Linked DNA regions of Homo sapiens: region 2 is linked to region 1. The links come from fine-mapping of genetic effects on gene expression. A gene starts in region 1. The other region holds a variant in brackets. All regions are shown on one strand. Distances are between the middles of the regions.

Region 1 (8,000 bases):
TGGTTTACACTTCTCCCTCCAGGCCAACTTCACAGACCCTACTGCAGGAACCCTTTCCTAGAGCACACCCCTTCCCTGGCGCTACTCCTCAGGCCCCTGCCCTGTGTGGGCACTCAGTATCTGCTTTGTCACAACTCCTGTCCCTGCATCCACGTCTGTCTATGTGCCCAGGCAGACTCTTACTCCTCTGTAAGACTGGGACTCCCCTAGACAGGGCCCAGGTAGACTGGATCTCCTTGGAGGCAGAGGCTGTCTCATTAAACTGGGGCTCCCTGAGGCAGGGATGGAGGTAACATTTTCCCCTCCTAGACCTGCCAGCTTGGGGCCTACCCTTGGAGGTGCTGCGCCTAGGGCCCCTCACCATGAGAGCAGCGGTCCAGCCCATCACTGTCCCTCAGCCAGGAAGACACTTTCTCCCGCGGTCCAAGCCCAGGTAGGGCTGAGGCAGTAGCTGCTGTTGGAAGCTGGGCACCAGGAACCTGTGGGGTGAGCCCAGGGTCAGGAAGGATGATGCCCACCTCCCTGGGTCTCACAGTTCTCCATAGCCCTTGCCCCTGAATTGCCACATTACCTGCCCCCACCCCAGGGTCCACCTTACCTTCCGGTGAGCAGTACTGGGCAGTGAGCCACGGGGCATGTCCAGGCGGTGGGCTAGGCGGTGGGCACGCAGCTGCGCCACCCAGCTCTGGAATAGGTCCTGGGATTTGATCTGCAGAAGTGATGGAGAGGGGGAGGGCTATCTGAAGAGAGGGACCACTTTCCAAGAGCAAGAAGTCAGGGCTCTGGTCCCCAGACAAGCAGGGTCTCTTCTTACAGAGCCTGGTTTGTGCAAGGCTCACTTGCAGGGAGACAGAGCGCAAGGCGCCCAGGTGTCTGAGCCCTTAGCTCTGTGCCTGTCCATACAACAACCAAGAAGTGCAGGTTTGCCCTTGGCTGTTTTTACAGGATGGAAACTTACTTTTTGTCAAACTCAGAGACAGACCCTGAGTTCCACAGACCCTCAGCCCCTGCCCCTGTGTGTTCCAATGCCTCTGTCAGGTTGGGGGCCAACACACGTCCTGCCTCCCAGGGATGTCACCTTGAGGTGGTAGATGTTGTCTTCAGTGTCAAGGTCAATGCGCTGGGCCTTTTTGTTGATGGACATGACCGACAGCCGGACATCGATGGAGCCATGGAGCTTCCCCTTGGTGATCTGGGGGTGAAGTGTTGGTAGAGGGAGAGGGGACCTGTTTTAGGCTCTCAGAGCCATAGAGCCACCATCTCCCTGATGCCATTCTAGGCTCAAGGGCCAGGTGGCAGGTTCACCCTCATGTCCAAGTCACACTATCAGTAGAGACTTGTCAATCATCCTCCCATGTGCAGAACGCTCCCCTACGTCAAGTCACATCTTGGTCTCTAAGAAGTCACAGATCAAGAAAAACTATTCCCACCCTCAGGGGTCTGCAGGGTTGTGGAAGGCAACACCCTCCCAGAGAGATCCTGGGTACCCAGGCCTTCAGTTCCTTGTTCCCAGCCTGAGAATGGGACCAGGATGAGGGTGGTAAAGCCCCCATTTCTTGGGCACTTATTCTGCCCTGTCCAGAGAGCCTTGTACGTATGACCTCCCTTACCATGACAGCTCTGCACCTGGGGGATGGTGCTCTCCCATTAGAGGTGAGGAAGCTATGGCCCAGGGATGTAACTTGCCCGAGATCACACATTCAGCAAGTGGTGGACCTGGGATTCAGACCCTGCTCTGGTCGATTCCAGATACCCCATGCCTGCCCAGGGCATACTGGGGCCAGACTCCTCCCACAACCCCAAGCCACTGCCCGGGCTCACGTCTTGCCGGGTTGTTGCATAATGAAGGATCCCGTCCTCGAGCACAAAGTATCTCTGTGATGTTGCCCAGGAGTGACAGGACCCGGGAGGCCGAGAGGAAGGGCATGAGGGAGAAGGCAACCACACAAATTAGCTTTTCTTTTCCTTCTCATCATGCAAACACCATTGGACTGCCCAGCAGCTGCCCCCCATTCCCACCCCGCCCCCCATGTCTGGACCCTCCCTTTGCCTGCCCACCCTACCTTGTGCCAGCCCTTCAGAGGCCACTTCCTCTTCTTGAGCAGGTGACCTTCCTGCCTCTCAGGCATGACACCCTCTGTCCCCAGCCTGACCCGAGGCTCCTCCACCACCTCCCACAGCTCAGAGGCCTGCAGTCCAGGACAGAGGGAGGGGAGCACTGGTGAGACGTCCGCCTTGGCCCCTCCCTGTCTGGTTCCAGCTTGGCCCACCCACCACCGCTTTCCCACTCTCTGACCTGCTGAGCACTGCTGGGCTTTGAGGACTGAGCGCTCTCAGGCAGGAAGGGCGGGTCCCTCTCTTGGAAGTCCATGGAGAAGGGAGAGGCCACTCCCTGCTGGGGATGTAGAGCAGGGAGCAGGGTGGAAGGGGAAGGATGTCACCTGCTCCTGACGGGGTCCTTGAAGCAAGAGAAAGACCCCCTTAACGCAAACTCTGCTATCACCTTCCCCACCTCCAGCCCCTCCCACACCCTCTGAGATAAGGGCTCCCCAACATACCCTCTGCTCACCTGCCAAGCCTCTCCCAAGTCTGCCCCTCTGTCCCGACCCCACCCATTTTCACCTGATATGGACACTGCCCTGAGAGTGAACTAGCACACAGCAGACGGGCAGGTGCCCAGGGAAAACCACAAGACATATGCCCAGCCCCGCCTTGGGCACATACTCTGGGGCTCCAAGAAACATTCAGTGCTTTCTTTAGAGGCTTCCCTGGGAGTGCTCAGAGGTGAAGCAAGGGAGTGACAGAAGAGGCTCCAAGAAGAGACAGAGGGGTTCAGAGACTGGACAAGCGAGACCTCCTCAATCCAGCTGCCTCTGCCTTCAGGACCCCTCCACCCTGCCACCGTAGCTCAGAGACTTCTCTGCCATGATCTTGCAGAAAACTCCCCAGCCTCCCACCAATTAATCTCCATATTATCTAGTGCTTGGAGAAACTGAGGCCTGAGATAGCCCCCATTTTCCCATGTCTCCTCCCACCAAACATGCCCCTAGGATGCCCTTTTTGGACCCTCAGTACCCCCTAAAGCCTCACCATCCCCTGTCTACCCTCACAGTCCTTGGGGCTCTGAGAAGTGCCACCCACCCAGAGAGGGCAGGACATTGGGCTAAAGGAGATACTTCATGAGAGAAGAGGGGGCCCAGGACATGCCCAGGTCTGCACAGGTCCTGCAGCAGTGCCCACAGGCACCCTTGGCACTGGCCCTGGCCATCCTGGCTCCACCGGGAGATCAATAATGCATGAGGCTCTGCATGTGTGAGACGGGGGAGGGGACTGGAGGGGCGAGGCTGGTTTGAGGTGGGGGAAGCAGCCCAGATCTTCTAATGGAGCTAGCAAGCACCTGAGGAACTGAGGCCCAGAGGGGACAGGGATGTGGCAGGAACGGGTGCCCAGGAGGTTGGGGCAGAGGGACCCTTGCTGCAAGAGGCTGACCTGGGAGGAAACTCCTGCATTCAGCCATTGAAAGTTCTCAAACTCTTCCGGTGTTCAGGTATCTCTGGGCCCTTCTCCCGGCCCTGTGGGGATCCTGGCCCCTCACTGCTTGTGGGTAGAGGGGGAGGCTCTATCGGTAGGCAGGTGAAGGGTCTAGGTGAGCCAGGTGGGTGCCCCCTCTCCACCTCTATTCAGGAGCAGACCCACCAGCTTCAGGTGGGAGGAAGCTCTTCTCAGGAATGTCAGCTGCTGCCACGCAGCCCCCTTACCCCAGGGTCCATGGACGCCAGTACTCCTTGGCCCTTGCGCCGCTCTGCCTCTGAGTCACCGTCTCCGAGTCACCGGCTCCCTCCTCACCGCGCTGAGCAGTGGCAGCAGCTGCTGCAGGAACCAGGAAGGAAGGAGATGTCAGAGCCTCCCCTCTAGCCGGATCTCCCCACCTCCCTCTCCCCTGTCCCCTCCTCCCGCCAAGCTCCGGGCAGCCGCTCAGCTCTGCCCCCCTGCTCCCCGGAGGACTCAGGGCTGAGCAGACTGCCCTAGCATCGATGTGGCTTGGGAGTGGGGGCACAGTCCCTGCTGGGCATGGTTCCAGATAGATCAGAGGACTGGGGAACTGTTGGCTGTACGCCAGTGGTGATAAAGGATTTATTCAGACTAGCATGGCAGTGACCCTGTTAGTACCCAAGGCCAATTCCTAATTAACCCCCGCCCCCCGCCTCTCATTTTACATCTGAAAATAGACTGCAAAATTTGGAGCCAGCAAAAGTATCAGGTTGATGGTGGAGGGACAGATGCCCCCTCTGGGACCATAAGAGAGTGCCAAGAGCACAGTCAGCAGGGGCAGTCAAGCCAGGAAAGGGACAGCCAGCAGTCCCCACACTGAGGCCCTTCACTGGGGTGATGCCCCACTAGGTCAGGCCCCATGGAGATCTGAAAGTGCTTGTGTGTATGAAGACACCCCACAGCCTGCAGTCTCTGATCAGGAGCAGGCCTGGGGCAGTCACAGCTGCCGTTAAAAGGGCTGCAATGCTGGTCCCCTCCCTTCCCTTTACCCTTCTGCTGGAGTACTGTGCCCAGCTGCTCAATTCTAATGAAAAATCGGCTCTTAACAAAGATCTAAAATTCATTCAAATGAATGTGGCATAGACCTACAGTTTCAAGCGCAGCTAAGTTTTCTGGAAAGAAGTAGGTGGGGCCTCAGGTGAAGGATGTGATTCAAGTTTCTTCTCTGACCCCAAAAGTGACATGGGCCACTTATCCCTTCCACTTCATCCTCACCGAGCTTGGTTTACGTTTCAGGGTCTCACATATCTCTCGGGAACACCCACTGTCTTGCCTTTATTCAGAGCCTCAGTGCTGCTCCAGCCACCCCAGGAGGAGGGTGTTGTTAGCACCTGGCAGGGTTCTGGGAGGGACAGGAGCACTGGGCAGCACTGACCAGACAAGCTCTGGCATCCAGGAGCCTCAAGGGCCTTTTAAGCCACTTCCCAGTGATTGAACATCCCTGGGCATACAGCACAGGATGAGGCACTGGGGGAAGCTGGTCCTGGCCCAGGCCACAAAAGAGCTGCTGCAGGTCATCCCTGCCAGACAGTGCCTGTCCAAGACTAAGGAAGCGGTGGCATTGCTTCAAGTCCGAGAAGGAATGTTGAACAGCCACCTTCCCCGGGTCACCCCTGCATCCACCCAGAATGTGCTCCAGTCAAGGATGATGGTGGACTCTGAGTTAAGCATCCCGTCTCCTTTATTAGGAATTTCTGGTTCATGAAGACTTGCATGAGGCCTCCTACCCTAGAGCTCTCAGAATTCCCCATTAATAGAGAATCCTAGTTTTCCCGCAGGCCTTTTGTCCAGAACCACCAGAGACACGTTAGCTAGTGGGTACAGCTGTCAGCTGCCTTTAATAGGGCAAGCATGCGCGGGATGCCATTTGTGGGAACAGGTATAGGGGAAGAGGATTTTCCTAGGAAGGGAAGCAAGAGTGAGGAAAGTCAGATGACAGAGAAGCCCCTGAGAGTAAGTTTAGAGGGAGGACAACCGTGTAAACCACAAAATAAAGGAAGTAGAATATATTTCATTTTATTATAAAGCAGTGCTCCCAAACTTTTCACAGCGTACACCTCGAGGGTGGAGAACTAACATCCAAGCACACCTGGATGGTGGATGGGACCCACTTCTGGGTAACCTGATGAGGAAGCTCTAGTGAAGAAATTCAGGACGCGGTCTTCAGAGCAGAGGGCTTGGTTCAAGTCCCTGTTCTGCCACTTACTAACTGCATGACCTTGAGCAAGCCACTTAATTTCTCTGCTCCTTCTCTGTGAAATGGGTACAATGTGGTCAGCAGTAAAGGAACTAATACATGTACAGCACTCAGCACAAAGCCTGGCACACAGCAGGCTCTCACCAGGTGCCATTCTCAGCACAACTGCTTGGTTGAGCTACTGTGGCAGTGGCAGGTTGTGCCCCAAGGGGGTGGGCTCAGGAGCCCGTGCAGCAAGAGGCAGTGACCAAGGAGGCAGGGGACAATAGCCCTATCTTTTCAGGATCTCTGCCTTGGACCTGGAGAATGGAGAGACTTTGCTCCTATCACGTCCCAAGTTGGGAAAACTAAGGACGAAGCCGGTGACTGACATCTGAAATGGAATCCTCTGCATCTCCAAGTGGCCCTATACCTGACAATATCATTACTAGTGAAAACCAAGTGACAAACACACTCCCCGACCCCAAGTTCTTCCACATGTCCCATTGAGGAGAGCACAGCCAATAACGCAGAGTGTATTTATGCGCAGGGCTGGCTAAACAGGCTGGCTACGAGTCCGGAACAGTGTCAGGATCTGGCTTCCCATTGGCCGACATGACAGAATCCTTCTCGCGTTGCTCTCTGATGTACTGGTCCAACAGGGTGGTCAGCTGGAGGGGCTGGTGCTGGAGCAGGGAGTGGGTCTGGGCTGTGAGGCAGGTGAGGCCTCCTACAAGCTCCCCCTGCACCAGGGGCAGGCTGGGGAGCTTGGAGTAGTTGATAAAGCCCTGCCTGCTGAGGATGGTGTCATCAATGCAGCCACCTGGAAGAACACAGGGTCAGTTAGGCTCCTTGCAGATTGCCTTTCTTCTCTGAAAACAATATTCTGACCCTAGTAACTTGCTCTCCATTGCCCTTCTCAAAATCCTGCCTTCCCCAGGACCTGGGTTCCACTGTGCCCCACACCACACCCACTCTGCTTGGGATCGATCCCTACTTCTTCACTCTTCCCTCAGAAAACTCTTAATATATCCACCTGGCCCTGACCCCTATTAAGTCAGTGTTTCCTAAACTTCCTTGTAAATAAGAATCAGGCAGCCAGGTGTGGTGGCTCATGCCTGTAATCCCAGCACTTTGGGAGGCTGAGGCAGGCAGATCACCTGAGGTCAGGAGTTCAAGACCAGCCTGGCCAACATGGAGAAACCCCGTCTCTACTAAAAATACAAAAATTAGCCAGGCATGGTGGCGAGCGCCTGTAATCCAAGCCACTCGGGAGGCTGAGGCAGGAGAATCGTTTGAACCCGGGAGGTAGAGGTTACAGTAAGCTGAGATCGTGCCATTGCACTCCAGCCTGGGTGACAAGAGCAAAACTTCGTCTCAAAAAAAAAAAAAAAAAAAAGAATCAGGATGAGGTTGGGTACGGTGGCTCAAGCCTGTAATCCCAGCACTTTGGGAGACCAAGGTCGGTGGATCACCTGAGGTCAGGAGTTTGAGATCAACCTGGCCAACATGGTGAAACCCCGTTTCTACTAAAAATACAAAAATTAGCCAGGCATGGTGGCAAGCACCTGTAATCCCAGCTACTTGGGAGGCTGAGGCAAGAGAATCGCTTAAACCTGGGAGGCGGAGGTTGCAGTGAGCTGAGATCACGCCATTGCACTCCAGCCTGGGCAACAACTGCGAAACTCCGTCTCAAAAAAACAAAGAATCAGGCTGGGTGCAGTGGAAAACGCCTGTAATCCCAACACTTCAGGAGGCCAAGGTGGCATAATTGCTTGAAACTAGCAGTTCAAGACAAGCCTGGGCAACATGGTGAATACAAATACAAAAAATACAAAAATTAGCTGGACATGGTGGCATGCGCCTGTAGTCCCAGCTACTTAGGAAGTTAAGGTGGGAGGATGGATTAAGCCAAGGAGGTCCAGGCTGCTGTGAGCCATGACCGGACCACTGCACTCCAGCCTGGGCAATGGGAGTGAGACCCTGAATCATGGAATGGAGGGAAGTAACGGGGAACTATTGTTTAATGGGTGTAGAGTTTCACTGTTAGAAGACAAAACGTTCTGGAGATGGATGGTGGTGATGTTGCATAGCATTATGAATGTACTTAACACGGAACTGTACATTTAAAATGGTTAAGATGGTAAATTTTGTGTGTATTTTACAATTAAAAAATTGAATAAATATCATGGAGTGTTGAGGGGGTATTAAAATCACAGATTCACCAGGAGCGGTGGCTCATGCCTGTAACCCCAGCACTTTGGGAGGCTGA
Region 2 (15,592 bases), 43 kb after region 1:
CATCCTGTTTTTGACCACAGCCCAATGCCCTTGGCAGAGGACAGGAGCAGTTGTACCCCCTCTACACACACCAGAACCCAGTACCCCAAGACTTACATGCTACCTCCCTCCCAGGATGAGCCAGGGAGTCTTTACCCAAAACTCTTCTCCTGCTCCTCCCCTATACCCTCAGCAACCTCTAGACTGGGGATTCCCAGTCTCTTCATTAACTTTTCAGCAATTATCCCATAAAGGCCCTGACAGGTCCTTCCTCTCCCCATTTCAGAGATGAGAACACTGAGGCCCTGAAGAGGTAAAAGCTCAGCAGAAAGCCACCCATCAAGCAGGAGAGAATAGAGTATTAGAGGGCTTAGGAGGCAGAGCTGGACCTCTTTCTTCAATCTTAGGCAAAATTGGGAGGACAGGGCCAGCACAACCCCCTGGGGGAACCCAGGCATCAGGACTGAGGCAGGCTCCAGGGAGGGGCTTCCCTGTCCCTCCCCACCTTCCAGCACAGAAAATCAGAGTGGGGAGGGGAAACAAGCTGAGGAGACCACACAGGTGGAGTAAATAATGTTAATACGGGAGCATTATCACTAGGGCATTTCCTCATGGATAAATGTCTCAAATACCAAAGGATGCCTCCAAATTATAGTTAATTACAGAGTTGATTTGCATAAATTATAAGGTGAGCATACAAATTCTTTCAATCGGTTCCATATGCTTAGGTAGCAGGTCCAGTCCAAAAGATGGGAGAATCTTGGGGTTGGGGGGGAGTTTGGGAGAGGAAAAAGACCCAGCCCTCAACCTGGACCTTCAGGCCCACACACCTTCCCCTGGCCTCTGGATCAGTCAGGGGTGTGTTTAGACCCTGCCTGGACAGCAATGAACACAGCCAGCACCCTACCTGGCAGGAGACCCCCTTTCCTCCTCTATTCGCACCTCCAGACAATGTGTTTTCCTAACACCAGTGATGGGCGGGAGAGAGGAGCTGGGAAAGCTATGGGTGGGTGCCATGCGGCCTGTAGCTTGGAGTGGGGGGCGGGACTGCAGAGTCCTGGCTTCTGGCCTTTGGAGCCAGAAGAGGGGAGGGGGCTGAGGAAGCTGAAGACCCAGTGGGGCTGAGGGTAGATTCAATTCAAGCCCCTCTCTCTTGATCTCAGCTCCCCTACCCGCCCCCTGGCCCCCACACGAGCCACCTCCCCCAACTCCAGCAGCTCACTCCCAGCGCCAGCCCTCGGATCTCAGGTTTGATGTTGCCGCTGCCTGCACCTTCCAGGTGGCTCCTCAGCGGCTCAGACTCCCAGACTTTCGTCTCCAGTGCCTGGGCCTATTTCCTCTGCCCTCGCCTCTCGGTCTCCCACCTCCTCCTCCCGCCCCTAGCTGCTAAGACTCTACTTCCTTCTTCAGCTCTCTAATTTGTTCCTCCCTCCGGCCCCCATCCTCAGCCCCAGAGGCCCATCTCCTACTGTTCTTCCTTCCATCTTTCTCCTCCTTGCCCAGCCTCCCTCCCCTAAAGATCCCAGGGCTCCCCTACACTCAGCTGTCAACTTCCCTTTTCCCACCCACCAACTGCTTTCTGCTTTCCAAGCTACTCTTCCTCCCACCCCTAAGCTTGCTTACCTCACTGTCCCCCAAATCCTTACTGCATGTAGTTCTCTGATTTTTCTCAATATACCTGCTCCAAAGGCAGACACTACTGGATTCGCTTAGGCTGCAAGGGGGAGGCTGGGCTAAGTAAGATCTCCCAAGTGTGTGCAGGTGAGAGTTTACCTTCATCTTTTTATCTTAGGGCAGGGGAAGATGATGAAGAAAGAGCCTAAAATGGTGTCTGGTACTTAGCAAGTATCTTACAAATATTTGTTTAATTGACAAATGAGGTGGAAATGGGCACTGGTCTGTGGAAATTCTGTGGAAGTGTCAACTTGCTGACAAAAATTACTACTTGTCTCGATTAATTTTCAGGTCTCCTATGCCACTTCTGTACCCACCAACCTAAGCTTTCCTGCACCTAATTAATGACAGATGAAGCATCTTTTTTTTTTTTTTTTTTTTTTTTTTTGAGACAGTCTCCCTCTATCACCCAGACTGGAGTGCAGTGGCGCCATCTTGGCTCACTGCAACCTCAGCCTCCTGGGTTCAAGTGATTCTCATGCCTCAACCTCCCAAGTAACCGGGATTACAGGCACCCACCATCATGCCTGGCTAATTTTTGTATTTTTGGTAGAGACGGAGTTTCACCACGTTGACCAGTCTCCTCTAGAACTCCTGGCCTCAGGTGATCCACCTGCCTCAGCCTCCCAAAGGGCTGGGATTACAGGCGTGAGATATGATGCCTGGCCTAATCATCCTAAAGTGCCACTCCATCTTGGCACTTCCCATCTCCAACACATCCAGTGGCTCCACAGTGCTAAATGTGTCATCCAGGACCCTCCCACTTCACCTACGCAGTCTTCTCTCCCGCTGGTCCTCATACAAACCCTACAGCCCAGCTCAGCCCAATGGATTTAATGTTCACCAAACATGTCCAGCCTTCCTACCTTTGTCGAAATCATTTCCACCCCTGCCAGCCATTCTTGCCTCTGGAAAGCACATTATCCTTCAAGCTCCTGGCTGGCACATAGGCGGCTTTCTCTGCAAAGGCTTCTCTTATCCGCACATCACTGGCATGCTCCTCTGAACTTCCTCAGCACTTATTGCCTCATGCTCTGCTTCCATGGGCTTGTTTTCTTATCTTCTCTACTGGTTGAATCCTTGAGGGCAAGAACTCTATCCTTTCATGCCACAGGGTCCTCAGGCCAGAGCCTTTCTTTGAGAAAGGGATGGATAAGCCACAGCTGAGTGAATTAGAGAAAGGGCTCCCCAGAATCCAAGCTTCCAGAAGCTCCTCAGCTTGGGGAGGGCATCAGTGAAGGCAGAAGCCTGGGTCGGGGAACTTAAAACCCAAAGATCCATGAAGTAAGCACACACAGCTTCCTACTGTCCCCCTGGCTGGCCCTGGTTGTGTGATGGAAGTGGAAGGACCCACAGAGTATCTGGGACATGCAGGGTTGGAGTGAGGGCTGAGGGAGAGTGAAGCTCCCCACCCTGTCACCCTGCTTGGAACAAGGAATTGGAGGTTTGGGGCAAAGGAGCAAGGGCGGTAAGTGGAGCCGAGAGAAAAGGCTGGCTGGGTGTCAGTCACGGAGACAGGCAGAGGCAGAAAAAGCAGAATCCCCTCAGTCCCTCGGTAGGAATTTAAACTTCTTACAAGGGTGGAAAGATCCCAGTCATGTCGTGCCTCAGCTCAAAAACATTCAATAGCCCCCCATTACCTACAGGAGAAAATCTACACTCTTAGGCCTAGGATTGAAGCCCCATTCCCCATCTGGCCTCAGCCTCCCTTTCCAGCCACATCCCTTCCCACTCCCCAGGAGGCTTCTACTCCATCCTTACCGTCCACATATTTTCACGCCCCACACTGTTCCATGTGTGAAATGCTCTTCCCCATTTCTCTGCCTGATGAGCTCCTATGGATCTTTTAAATCCCAACTCCTATGTCCCCATGCTCTCTAAAGCCTTCTCCAGTTTTTCAAGTTGTACTTTTCTGTGCTCCCATAGTTCTAAAATATAGAGCGTTTAATATTCTCTGATGGGTAATACAATTAGCTGTGTGCATGTGTAAGATCGTGAGTTCCTTGAGGGACTGGAAATTTCTGTTCATCTTTGAATCTCCCCCAGCATCTTATACAGCAACTAGTACTGAGTGTGCAATAAATATATGTTGCACTGGATTGAATTTACACCCTTTGCAGAGGACAAGGGGCTGCCAGGTCAGAGGTTGGTGAGTTCTCTATAAATCCCCTTGTCGGCTGGGTGCAATGGCCCATGCCTGTAACCCCAGCACTTTGGGAGGCGGAGGCGGGAGGATTACTTGAGGCCAGGAGTTGCAAACCAGCCTGGGCAACATAGTAAGACTCCGACTCTACAAAAAAAAAAAAAAAGTTAAAATAAATAAATAAATAAATAAATAAATAAATCCCTTTTGTCACATCACTGAGAGTTGGCCTCATGGCCTTCAAGACACTGCATCAAAAACATGCCCTGACCCTTCCTCTTTCACCCTGACACTGTGCCCAGTGCCCTGTCAGGAATCCAAGGTCAGGGGTGGCAGACAAGGCTCCATAAGAGGCCCAGTATCCTGTGTCCTGGTCAGCTGGGCACGGCCACCAACCCGCAGCCAGGGTCATCCAGAGAACCTCCAGCAGGATCCCACGAGAGGGGAATTAGAGAGGAGGCTGGGTATCAGGACCTGGCAGGCGGAATCAGGCGGGTAGGGGGAAGGAGGGCAGTGCCCTGGAAAGGGGGCCGGTCTCATTGTTGTGGTCTGTCTGGGAGATTCCTCCCCTTTTTAATTTGCTTCCTGATTGAGGGGTTGGCTCTGACTGCCCAGCTCCCCCGTCATTATCTGCTGCCGGTGGCTCAGGTGCTGGCGAGCCTGGTGTGGCCCGTAGGTTATTACCTGGAGCTCTGGGGGTGGCAGAGGCTGCCCCTCTGGCCGGGGTGGGGGCCTGTCTGGAATCTGCCCTGATCCTACCACCCACAGGGCAGCCATCTTGATGCCCAGCATAGTGGACACATTCACTTGGTTCCAAGAGTCAGCTGATCCCAGGCGGACTTCAATGTCTAGAGGAAGCTTCATCTTTCAAGTGCCTAGAGTATGGATTCAAGAACCTGAAGGCCAGGCGCAGTGGCTTATGCCTGTAATCCCAGCACTTTGGGAAGCCGAGGTGGGTGGATCACTTGAGGTCAGGAGTTCGAGACCAGCCTGGCCAACATGGTGAAAACCCATCTCTACCAAAAATACAAAAATTAGCCAGGCATGGCGGTGCGCGCCTGTAGTCCCAGCTACTTGGGAAGCTGAGGCACAAGAATCGCTTGAACCCAGGAGGCAGAGGTTGCAGTGAGCCAAGATCATGCCACTGCACTCCAGCCTGGGTCTCACTCAGACAGAGTGAGACTCCGTCTGGAAAAAAAAACAAAACCTGAGGCAGCCAGCCACGGTGGCTCACACCTATAATCCTGGCACTTTAGGAGGCCAAAGTGGGCAGACTGCTTAAGCCCAGGGATTCAAGACCAGCTTGGGCAACATAGCCAGACCCCATTTCTACAAAAAGTACAAAAATTAGTTGGGCATGGTGAGGGTGCCTGTAGTCCCAGCTACTTGGGAGGCTGAGGTAGGAGGATCACCTGAGCCCAGGAGGTCAAGGCTGCAGTGAGCTATGATCACACCACTGCATTCCAGCCTGGGAGACAGAATGAGACCCTGTCTCAGAAAAAAAAAAAAAAAGCCTGGCATGGTGGTGGCTCATGCCTGTAATCCCAGCTGTTTGAGAGGCCAAGATGAGTGGATCACCGGAGGTCAGGAGTTCGAGACCAGCCTGGCCAACGTGGTGAAACTCCATCTCTATGAAATACAAAAATTAGCCAGGTCTGGTGGCGGGTGCCTATAATCCCAGCAACTTGGGAGGCTGAGGCAGAAGAATTGCTTGAACCTGGGAGGCAGAGGTTGCAATGAACTGAGATCGTGCCACTGCCCTCCAGGCTGGGTGACAGAGCAAGACTAAGTCTCAAAAAAAAAAAAAAAAAAATTGGGTGTGGTGGCACACGCCTGTAGTCCAAGCTACTTGGGAGGCTGAGGCACGAGAATCGTTTGAACCTGGGAAGTGAAGGTTGCAGTGAACTGAGATCGCAACACTGCACTCCAGCCTGGGCCACAGAGCGAGACTTTGTCTCAAAAAAAAAAAAAAAAAAAAAAGGTAAAGCACCCAGAGTTAGATCCATTTCTCAAAGGCTGTGAAAGGAGTTAAGTCATTCATTAAGAAGTGATTCCAAGCCATGTGCGGATGAGAAAGAGACAGCAGTGAAGCTAGGGGATTCTCCTGCTGAATCCTTCCTATTCTGTGGTGTTCAGAAAACCAAGATTCGTAGAGGGGAAAAAGTGGCATTGATCTATGAACCTGGGACAACTAGAACCCAGCATGTGGGACTTCCTGTTGTGTAGGTGCAGAGGAGACTCAGCCTCCTGTAGTGCCTGGAGCATTGGACTTCAGACCTCTGCTCAGTGCCTGTGGGCGCAGCCTAGAACCCTGGCAGAGAGGGCACCCTTGCCTCTTCCATCTCTGAGTCCCCAAAGTTCTGGCCCTTTGCATTATCCTTGATTGAGCCTGTGAGCTTCAAGGACAGGAGATAATATAAAGATAAACAGGAAGTGCCAAATTAGAGACACGAAGTTTGTTGTTTTAGAGGGCGCCCAGCGCCAAGCAGCGGTGCCAGGTTGGCAGTCCTGGAGCCTGGTGTCTGCCTGCTCTCTGCACAGCCAGCTGCCCCTTGGACCACAGCAGGAGGGCCCTCTGGGCAGGAAAGGAGGATGGGATGGAGCATGGCAGGGAATGGGTTAAGCAAGTCATTCTTTTTTACCCACCAGCTGAACATTTGCAGTGTCACCTCTGATTCATTCTGGGCATTTAGTCACTCATTCCACAGATATTTTTAAGCTCCTTCCCTGTTCCAGGCATGTGCTTGGTACAGCCTCTTCCCCCAAAGCTAACATCCTCACTAGAATGTAAGCTTCATGGAGGCAGGGGGTTTCGTTCATTGCACTACTCCCAGTGCTTGGAATGGTGCCTGGGACTCTATAAGTGCTTTGTAAGTTTGTTGAATAAGTTAATGGAAGGACGAATAGATGAAGGAAGGAAGGGAAGAAAGAAGGAAGGGAGGGAGGAAGGGGGCCCTTAAGTGGGCATAGGAGGGTCCCATGATTTTTCAGTCCACTGGTCCACTGGACTTCTTCTTCTTTTTTTTTTTTTTTTTTGAGACAGAGTTTCTCTCTTGTTGCCCAGGCTGGAGTGCAATGGCGCCATCTCCGCTCACTGCAACCTCTGCCTCCCGGGTCCAAGCAATTCTCTTGCCTCAGCCTCCCAAGTAGCTGGGATTACAGGCATGTGCCACCACGCCTAATTTTGTATTTTTTTTTTTTTTTTTTGAGATGGAGTCTCGCTCTGTCGCCCAGGCTGGAGTGCAGTGGCGCGATCTCGGCTCACTGCAAGCTCCGCCTCCTGGGTTCACGCCATTCTCCTGCCTCAGCCTCCCAAGTAGCTGGGACTACAGGTGCCCACCACCAAGCCCGGCTAATTTTTTGTATTTTTAGT[A/G]GAGATGGGGTTTCACCATGTTAGCCTGCCTCGGCCTCCCAAAGTGCTGGGATTACAGGCATGAGCTACCGCGCCTGGCTTTTTTTTTTTTTTTTTTTTTTAGTAGAGATGGGGTTTCACCATGTTGGTCAGGCTGGTCTCGAACTCCTGACCTCAGGTGATCCACTCACCTTGGCCTCCCAAAGTGCTGGGATTACAGGCGTGAGCCACCACGCCTGGCCTACACTGGACTTCTTAATGAGAGCATTGATTATCCACAAGTGCTGTCCTCTCCATTCCATTCTGTCCACCTCTGAATGAGTCTTTGAGTCTTTTTTCCTTTTTTTGTTTTTGTTTTTGTTTTTGTTTTTTGTTGTTTAAGAGACAAGATTTTACTCTATTTCCCAGGCTGGAGTGCAGTGGCGCCATCATAGCTTGCAGAAGCCTCTAACTCCTGGGCTCAAGCAATCCTCCTGACTCAGCCTTCCAAGTAGCTGGGACTACAGGTGCGCCACCACATCCAGCTAATTTTTAATTTTTTTTTTTTGTAGAGATGGGTGTCTCGCTGTGTTATCCAGGCTGATCTCAAACTCCTGGCTTCAAGTGATCCTCCCATATTGGCCTCCCAAAGTGCTGGGATTACAGGTGTGAGCCACGGCACCCTGCCGAATCTTTGAGTCTGGACACCAGTAGGTGGTCATGGTCCAGTTCCTTGCCCAGATGCCCACAGGGACTTCCAGCTTCCAGGCTGCAATCACAGAGAATGAAGAAGGAAGGCTGTTCGAGAAATATGGGCAGCTCTTACAGGAAAGCCCCCCAGCCTCTAACAGGCCCTCTCTGGGCACCGAAGGTGCCAGTGGTCTTCCAAGGCCCGGGATGTGCCCTGGACGTGATTGCTCTCCTGGGTCTTGTCTTGCTGCTCTTTGCCCCCGCCCTCCTCCTCTCTACCTGATGGTGCCAGGTAAGGCTTCAGGCATGGCAGAGGCTGAACTGAGAGCCACCCTACCTTGTTCCTGTGGCTCCATCCCCCTATCCACACCCAAGAGATGAGATCCTGGGGCAGTTGGCATCTGACAGCCTGGCATCGACTCATGCCAACAGCTTGGAAGCTGCAGTAATTAGAAGGGGAGAGGGAGAGAGGGGGAGAGAAGGAGAGCGAAAGCAAGCTCTAGAGAGAAACCTTCTCCTGCCTGCCGCAGGGCAAACTACTTCAAACGAATTCGTTTCGCTCTTGTGAAACTGAAGACAATTTCCTTTTCTGTCATAAAACAAATTATTGCTCATCAGGAGTGCTGGGCTAGTCTCTTTCCTAAGGGTGTGCTCTTGCTCTTGTGCAGGAGGAGGGGAAACATTAGGGGAGGGGACCCAGGGTGCAAAAGGGATTTCCGGGAGCCATCCTGAGGGGGAGTAGGAAGAGAAGCTTTGGATAGATTCATGCTCCTCTCAGGAGTGAAACGGCGCCGTGTCCCCCTTGTCAACCTCCCCGACTGACCAGGGAAAGTGTCCAAGAAGGTACCGCTTGGCTCCAACCACCAGGACCGAAAGAGCCTCTGAGAGGGTCCAACCCTCCTCCATCCTCCTGCCTCCAAGCCACCCTGGGGAAGGCTCCACCTCCCCCCTCAGGCACCTGTTCCTGCTGTTGAGGGGTGAGGACAGGAAAGGGAGGCCCAGAGAAGTTAAGAGACTTGCCAGAGATCACTCAGCAAATTAATTAATGGCAGATCCAGGATAAGAACCAGTGGGTTCTCTTCCAGGCCAGGATCGGAGGGTGCCTGGGGACTTTTGTTAGCACCTTTATGACACTGGGTTGCTCCAGTGAGCAAACAGCATCCAAATGCTGCTGCTATCCCTAGGGGCAAAGTCTAGAAAGAAGAGCTGGTGCAGTGGGTTCCCTCCATCCCCAGTCATCAGGCCCCCATGCTGCCCCAAACATACCATTTCACCTCTCCTGGTCTTCGCTTTGAAAAACTTCCAGGGGACCTCCCTTCAGACCCACAAGAGGAATGATGGGTAATTTTTCTCTCCCCACCCCATCTACCCCACTAAATGTTCATAGCTCTTCCTTTCTCTTCTCTACACTGATCACCAGGCCAGGGCTCAGGGGAGACATGCTTCATCTTTATGCTTCAGCTCTTACCAATTTTTCATCATCTCCCCTGATAATTGCCCTCCTCCTCTCCCTCACTTCTCCAAGCTCTGGTCTCATGGCTTTTCTGGGAATTGGGGGAAATATAAAGGTTCCTGTCCCTGAGGAGCACCTAACTGGGGTGGGAGGGGATACAGACCTGACATTCACAAGCACCCAGAAGAGAAGAGAAACGGGAAGACTCTGGCTGGAAAGAACGTGGGTATCAGGATGAGGAGAGGGAGGGCAGGGAAGAAAGGTGGAGGCAAGGCCAGGGAGGGGTCTCTGAGAGGGTTTCTTGGAGAATGAGGTCAAGGAAGATGTGAGGAGGGGTATGGAGTAGAAAATCCAAGCCACGGACTGCCTGGAGACAAGGAGGAAGATGGGCCCAGGTTGGGGGCCATGGTGATGCCTGGGAAGGGGCTGGGAGCCAGGAGATAGGGTTCAAATCCCTGCCAGAGATGACGCAGGCAAATGGGAGGGCCAAATACAAACAACCATTCCAGTGATGTGGAAACCTAGTTTTAAGCCAGGGTGAATGTAGAAATGTTTGGGGATTGGCTGCCGGACCGGAGTAGCCAGACAGCCACCGTGAACAAAGGCTCTGGGATCGCATCCGCGGCCTGATGGGAGATGGAGAAATCGCCTTGCCCACCCATCTTCCCCCAGGCACGCATGTTTCTTTCCCACCCAACCCGCTGATCGGCACTCTGGAAAGAGGGACCCACCACCTGCCAAGTTCCCGCTTGGCAACATCCCCAAATGTTCTCCCTTGTGTCCAATCACAATTCCTCTGGTGGCCATTGGAGGCTTGGCAAGGAGAGGGCAGTGGGGAGATGGAAAGCGACTGCCCCTCTGAAAGTGGCTGGGAGGGAGACAGGGAGGGGGAGGTGAGCAGAGGGCAGGGCCAGGAGAGGATCGTGTCCAGGCGAAGACTCCTGCTCATCGGACACGCCACGCTGGGAATCTGAGAATCTGTGGTGGGAATGGGCCGGGCTGGCAGGAACAAAGGATGAAAGCGAGGTTGTGCGGCCGGCTGGGACGTACACACCCATCGCTGACGTACTTCGGCGGCTGATGACCTCAGCCAGGCCGTCAGACCCCGTCTTATCGCGCTGCCCCAGTGAGGGTCCCCCTGCACCAGTCCCCAAACAGGGCCTGAGAGCATGAGATAAGTCGGTTAGATGCCAGAAGTACCTGCTGTCAGGAGGAGCTCAGGGAATGACATTTCCCAGAGACAGGCGGGGTCAGAAGAGGGGATGTGGGAGGGTGAAGAGAAGCAATGAGGCTTAGAGAGAGAGTGGAGAAACCATCATGTCAGTGACCCTGACTTGAGGATCCAGGGTCCTGGTTGTCAATTCTTCGTGTCTATCTAAGAATTCTGACAGTGGGAGGGCAGGGCCCTGGCTAGGCCTGAAATACCTCTAGAGGACTTGGGTTAGACACCAAAACTTATTTGCTTTTTGGTGGCAGGAACATTAAGAGACTGAGTGAAGAACCCGTAATGATCTCAGAAAGTGTGGAATCACGCCTCTTGTGCAAGGGTAGACCACCACTTGGCCACACAGTCAGTGGAGGCTCCGATCCTCCCACCCCCACCCCCATGGACCCACTCAGCTTCCTGGGCCTCCGTGGAAACCTGTTGCTGGCATTTCATCTGTTCCTTTGGACCAGGAGCGGAGTAAGGCACTGTGGTTATGGTGTAGCTCCCTCTCGCTTGCCCCATTCTGGGGAAGAAAATGGGCTCTTACTGTTTTTTCTCTCCCAGTTTTGAGGTGAGGAGCCTGGGAAGGAAGAATCTGTCTGAAGACTTCATCTGCCCTTCTAAAGATCTCACCCCCACTGGAAGCCTTTGGCAGATCCTCAAGCACAGCCACACTGCCTGTGTGTCCCCCAACCACCCCTCACAGGGAGATATAGTTCCTCCCGAACAGAGCATGACATGCAGCCACACACATAGAGCCTCCACCAGCATGCACATGCGCACACACATGCACACACGCCCTCACTCAGTCACACATCCTCTTAGGTCATCACTTACCCAGAGGTTCATCCAGACCCCAGTGCAGGCATACACTGTGGCCGCAGCAGCCCACAGTGACCACTGGAGCAGGCACACCCCACTCACTGCAGCACAGAGCCTCGCCATGCCAACAGGCCCCCAAACACTCCCGGGATCCCCTTCACCCAAGTGGTCCCTCACACACTCTCCACTCCCATTCGGGCAAGTGTGTGCAGTGAGCAAATACTATGATAATGAAGTGCAAAGATGGACCAACATGGTGCCTCCTGTACACATGTGTTTACAAGGTGGCGGGAGACTCAGTCACATGAGCAGAGTGTTGCAAAGCAGCACTCGAAGTGCTGGAAGAGGAAAAAGCATCAAGTACCATGGGGACGACCCAAGTCTTGGAAGCCACTTGCCTACACAGCCAGTGGGGGGCACTGAGCCTTCCCACTTTCATACGTGGGCAGCCAACCCAGAGCTGCCTACATCAGAGCCAAAGTGCTCCTGACCTCCACCAAGGGACAGAGCTTTCACACTCACGAGGCCCTCACCTACTCCCTAGTAGCCTCCTAATGCCAGCCAGACCCTCCTAACCCCGACCATCATGCATACGCATAGACCCATCTTCAAGCCCTCTGCTCTCACACACCCTCCTTCCAAGGAGCCAGGGCCACTTGTCACTAGAGAAGCCATAATTGGCAGGTGCTGAGGCTGCCACGGAGCTTTGGAACAGGCAGAGGGGAGGGAGGAGAAGGGTTCCTGAGGTAGGGGGCTTGGGAGCGGGATGGGGGAAGAAGGAGGGGGCTGGCTCCAGTGCCCTCTTCTCCGCTCTGCAGGTGTAATTAGCCCTGGCAGATGAAAGGGCGTCTTTGAAAGCAGGTGAGATCCTTGTCTGTCAGCAGGGCGCTCTGGGTGGCATCGGCAGCTTATCCTGAAACCACACACGGCACCAGAGCCGGGCTGTCTGAGTGCTGCCCAGGAGGCGGGGAGGCAGACCCCAGGGGCGTGAGCCCTTGACTCCCCACTCCCCCATATCTTGGCCCTGGGCTCCCTGCTTCTATGAGCAGGAGCTTCTCAGAACAGAGTCCTCCAGAGCCTGGCAGTGCCACTCCCAATAAACTAATGCCCCATCCTTTGGGCCTGAAGGGACAGGGTACTGCCTCCCCTCCCCTGCCAAGCTGGACAGGAGGCCAAGGACAATGGCCCTAGGCAGTCCTTTCATCCTGAGATCTCAAAGCACCATCTAATTAACCCCGCCCAGGTTGGGGACTTCCTCTGGAATCCCTTTGGAGGGGTGTGGTCTGGGACCAGCGATCTTAGCTTGGATAGGAGGACCAAGAGGGCAGGATCTCCCAGTCCTCATCCTGTTTGGGATCTGGGGAGTCTGGAGGTACAGCAAATTGAGGGTGCTAACACCAAACTCTGAAAAGGGGGCTGACAGGGATCTCAGGAGAGCCTGAGTTTGACACCCAAAGGGGGATAATCCTGATGCATCCTGTCCCTCCTATTGCAGTTGGGTTCAAACTCAAGCAAAGGACGAATCTCACGGACACTCAGAGTGAAAGAGGCTGGCTCTAAAGGCGTAAACACAGTGCATGATCTCACCTACTTGAAGGTCAAAAACAGCCAGAAAAACTAATCTACACTCTTTGGAGTCAGAATAGAGATTCCTTACTTTTGGGGGGTTTAATAACCTGAAGGTGGGATAATGGGTGCTTTGGGGTGTTGGTAACCTTCTGTTCCTTGAGCTGAGTGTTGGTTACCCAGGTATGTTCATTTTGTGAAAATTCACCCAGTTTTGTGCTTATGATTTATGTATGTTCTATATTTATAACACTTTTCTATATGCATTTCATAGTTCAATAAACATTTACATTAAACATTTTTACATATCAAGCCAATACTTTGTCTTATGATTCCTTTAAGGGGCTCTCACATTTGTCTCTTTCCTCAGTTGGAAGATCAAAGAGTTTGCTCCAGAATGAAGCCCTGGTGAGGCTAGATTCTCAGAGAATTTCTGGACTGTGTGTGTGTAGGGGGAAGAAAGACAGGAGGCTGTGCAGAGCCAACACATTGATACACCCTATTCCCTACCCCCATCCCCACTGCAATCCTCAGACACACTAACCTATTTCACTTTGCTAAAAACCAATGAATGCTTTGATGCCAAGGGAACCAATGAGATAACTGGGATCCCTGCTGTCCTCTGCCCTACCCCCACTATCTGCTCCTGAAATCTGTTCCCAGTCAGGGTCCTACCCTCTCCACCTCTCGTGGTCAGCTCTGTCCCTTTCATCTCCCTCCTCTGCTTCAGGGTCTAAAAGAGATAGCTTTGGAGGGGTGGAGAGTGTTTGTGAAGAAGCTGCTGGTCCCCACCTCATCAAATGACATCCCTGCTTCTTTCTCTCCACCCAGGAAAAAGGCAGGAGGCATTGATTTCCCCTCCTGCCACTGAGGGAGAGGGCTTTGAGCTGGACTTCCTGATAACTGGGGTGGTAAGAAGTCCTTGGAGGGGGTGAACAAAAGCCAGGATTATTTAAAGACTGACCTGTCTGGAGACAGGGAGAGATCAGATCAGTTTACGGGGTCCTAAGCTTGCTGGGTTTTCACTGCAAAGAACTTCACCACCCAAGCATGAACACATGGAGGTACTTGTCCTTGACATAGGGTATCCAGCTGGGAAGGGATCCTAAACATCCGGGTTTCCTAATTGGCACCCCAGAACCCCCAGCCACGCCAGAGAATGAAACTCTGCCGGTTTTGTGTGACTTCAGGAACATCCACCTCCTCCTGCGCTGAACTCAGTGATGTCCCACTGGCAACTTTCTCTCCACTGGTTTGATGGGCTCTATAACCTAGAGTCTGGGGTTCACCTTCCCTAGTTTTCTGGAAAATTCATACTCCCTGCCCCCAAACTCATCCTCCCTAATTAGCTCCCCTAAAATGTGCTGAGAAGAGGGATTCTTCTCTTCTGACCCTCCTTCTAGCAGGTGGAGTTCATAACCCTCGATCGAGTATTCCAGGGATTTTTGTTTTGTTCACTAATTGTATCATAAGCACCCAGAACAGTGTCTGGCACACAGTAGGCATTCCATAAATGTTTACTGGATGAATGAATGGTGCCCACACTTGGAAAGTTCCTCCAGAAGCCCATCCTATATCCCTATTACTATCATTTAAGCTTTCAGCTCTGGCCCTAGAAGAGAGGAGTCAGCTATCTGCCTGCATCTGTCATCATTTATTGAGCACCTACTGTGTGCAAACCATTGTGATATGTGACTGTCTGTTCATAACTTAAGAGTCTTGGCTCATACCAATACCTCTTACTATCTGTCCCCACTTCTCCCTCCAAGTCCAGTCTTCATTCAACCTCACTGGCCCATTTTCTTAAGAATTACTCAAGATTTAATAAGAATGAGAAGTTTGCTTTCTGTGATTATAATTGTTTGTTCTAGGTCTTCTTTCGTCTCCACTTAAGATAAGTGAAAACCTCTCCATTTCTCTTTTTGTCTCTGTGCCTCCAACTCTCTGCATAGCATGTGTTCCTGCCTCTGTATCCCCATCTGGTCTCTGTTTCTGTTTCTTTCTTTTTTTTTTTTTTTGAAACAGAGTTTTGCTCTGTCACCCAGGCTGGAGTGCAGTGGCGTGATCTTGGCTCACCACAACCTCTGCCTCCCGGATTCAAGCGATTCTCCTGCCTCGGCCTCCCGAGTAGCTGGGACTACAGGTGCCTGCCACCATGCCTGACTAATTTTTTTGTATTTTTAGTAGAGACGGGGTTTCACCATGTTGCCCAGGCTGGTTTTGAACCCCTGAGCTCAGGCAATCCACCTGCCTTGGCCTCCCAAAGTGCTGGGATTACAGGCGTCAGCCACCGCGCCCGGCCTCTGGTCTGTTTCTTTGCTGGAAGAGTAGCTCTTTCTTGGGATCCCCTCTCTAGGTTTGATTCGTTGGGGTGTGGGTTTGTCTCAGGCCCAATCTATTTCTCTGTCTCCCTCTCTTTCATTTCCTTTACAGCAAATAGGTAAACAAGTGGTTGAAAAATAGGAAAAGGGGAAGAAAAAAAGAGAAGCTATCATGGGGTGTTTTCTCCCAGGTATCAGGGTCGCAGGTAGTTCCAACCTCAACTGGGAACAAGTCCCAACAGGTGCAACCCCTGTCCAGATGTTGCACAATGCAGGCGCGTGCCCAGAGCCCAATCCCAGATCGGTTCTCGGGCAGAGGTCCGGGTTGGGGATGTATCCAAACCAGAAATATCCTTTCAGGTCTCTCTCCCCGAGACAAACCCCGGCAGGGTCTGCTCCTCCCGGA

Direction of the effects. Alleles are on the strand shown, and positions count from the first base shown. SD is a standard deviation of normalised expression in the study named.
For the expression in cerebellum of the gene that starts at base 3,887 in region 1, allele A in region 2 goes with a lower level than allele G (moderate effect, 0.43 SD a copy in GTEx).

Evidence for each region.
Region 2: its variant is fine-mapped to the expression of OSBPL7 in cerebellum (GTEx, PIP 0.99).

Annotation. Positions count from the first base shown.
Region 1 is chr17:47,817,908-47,825,907 of GRCh38, forward strand. It overlaps OSBPL7 (oxysterol binding protein like 7), which reads right to left and starts at 3,887. Exons shown (of 23, transcript NM_145798.3): 1 at 3,759-3,887; 2 at 2,297-2,458; 3 at 2,064-2,189; 4 at 1,822-1,875; 5 at 1,079-1,192; 6 at 599-709; 7 at 362-479. The coding sequence starts at 2,371. It overlaps MRPL10 (mitochondrial ribosomal protein L10), which reads right to left. Exons shown (of 5, transcript NM_145255.4): 5 at 5,365-6,551. The coding sequence ends at 6,298. RefSeq lists a silencer at 3,850-4,065 and an enhancer at 4,176-4,345.
Region 2 is chr17:47,856,754-47,872,345 of GRCh38, forward strand. It overlaps a transcript of SP6 not described here. Among named protein-coding and RNA genes, the nearest start is that of SP6, 13 kb to the left of the region's middle. RefSeq lists enhancers at 9,760-10,270, 9,916-11,115 and a cis regulatory region at 9,996-10,798. The variant A/G (reference allele first, on the strand shown) is at 7,170.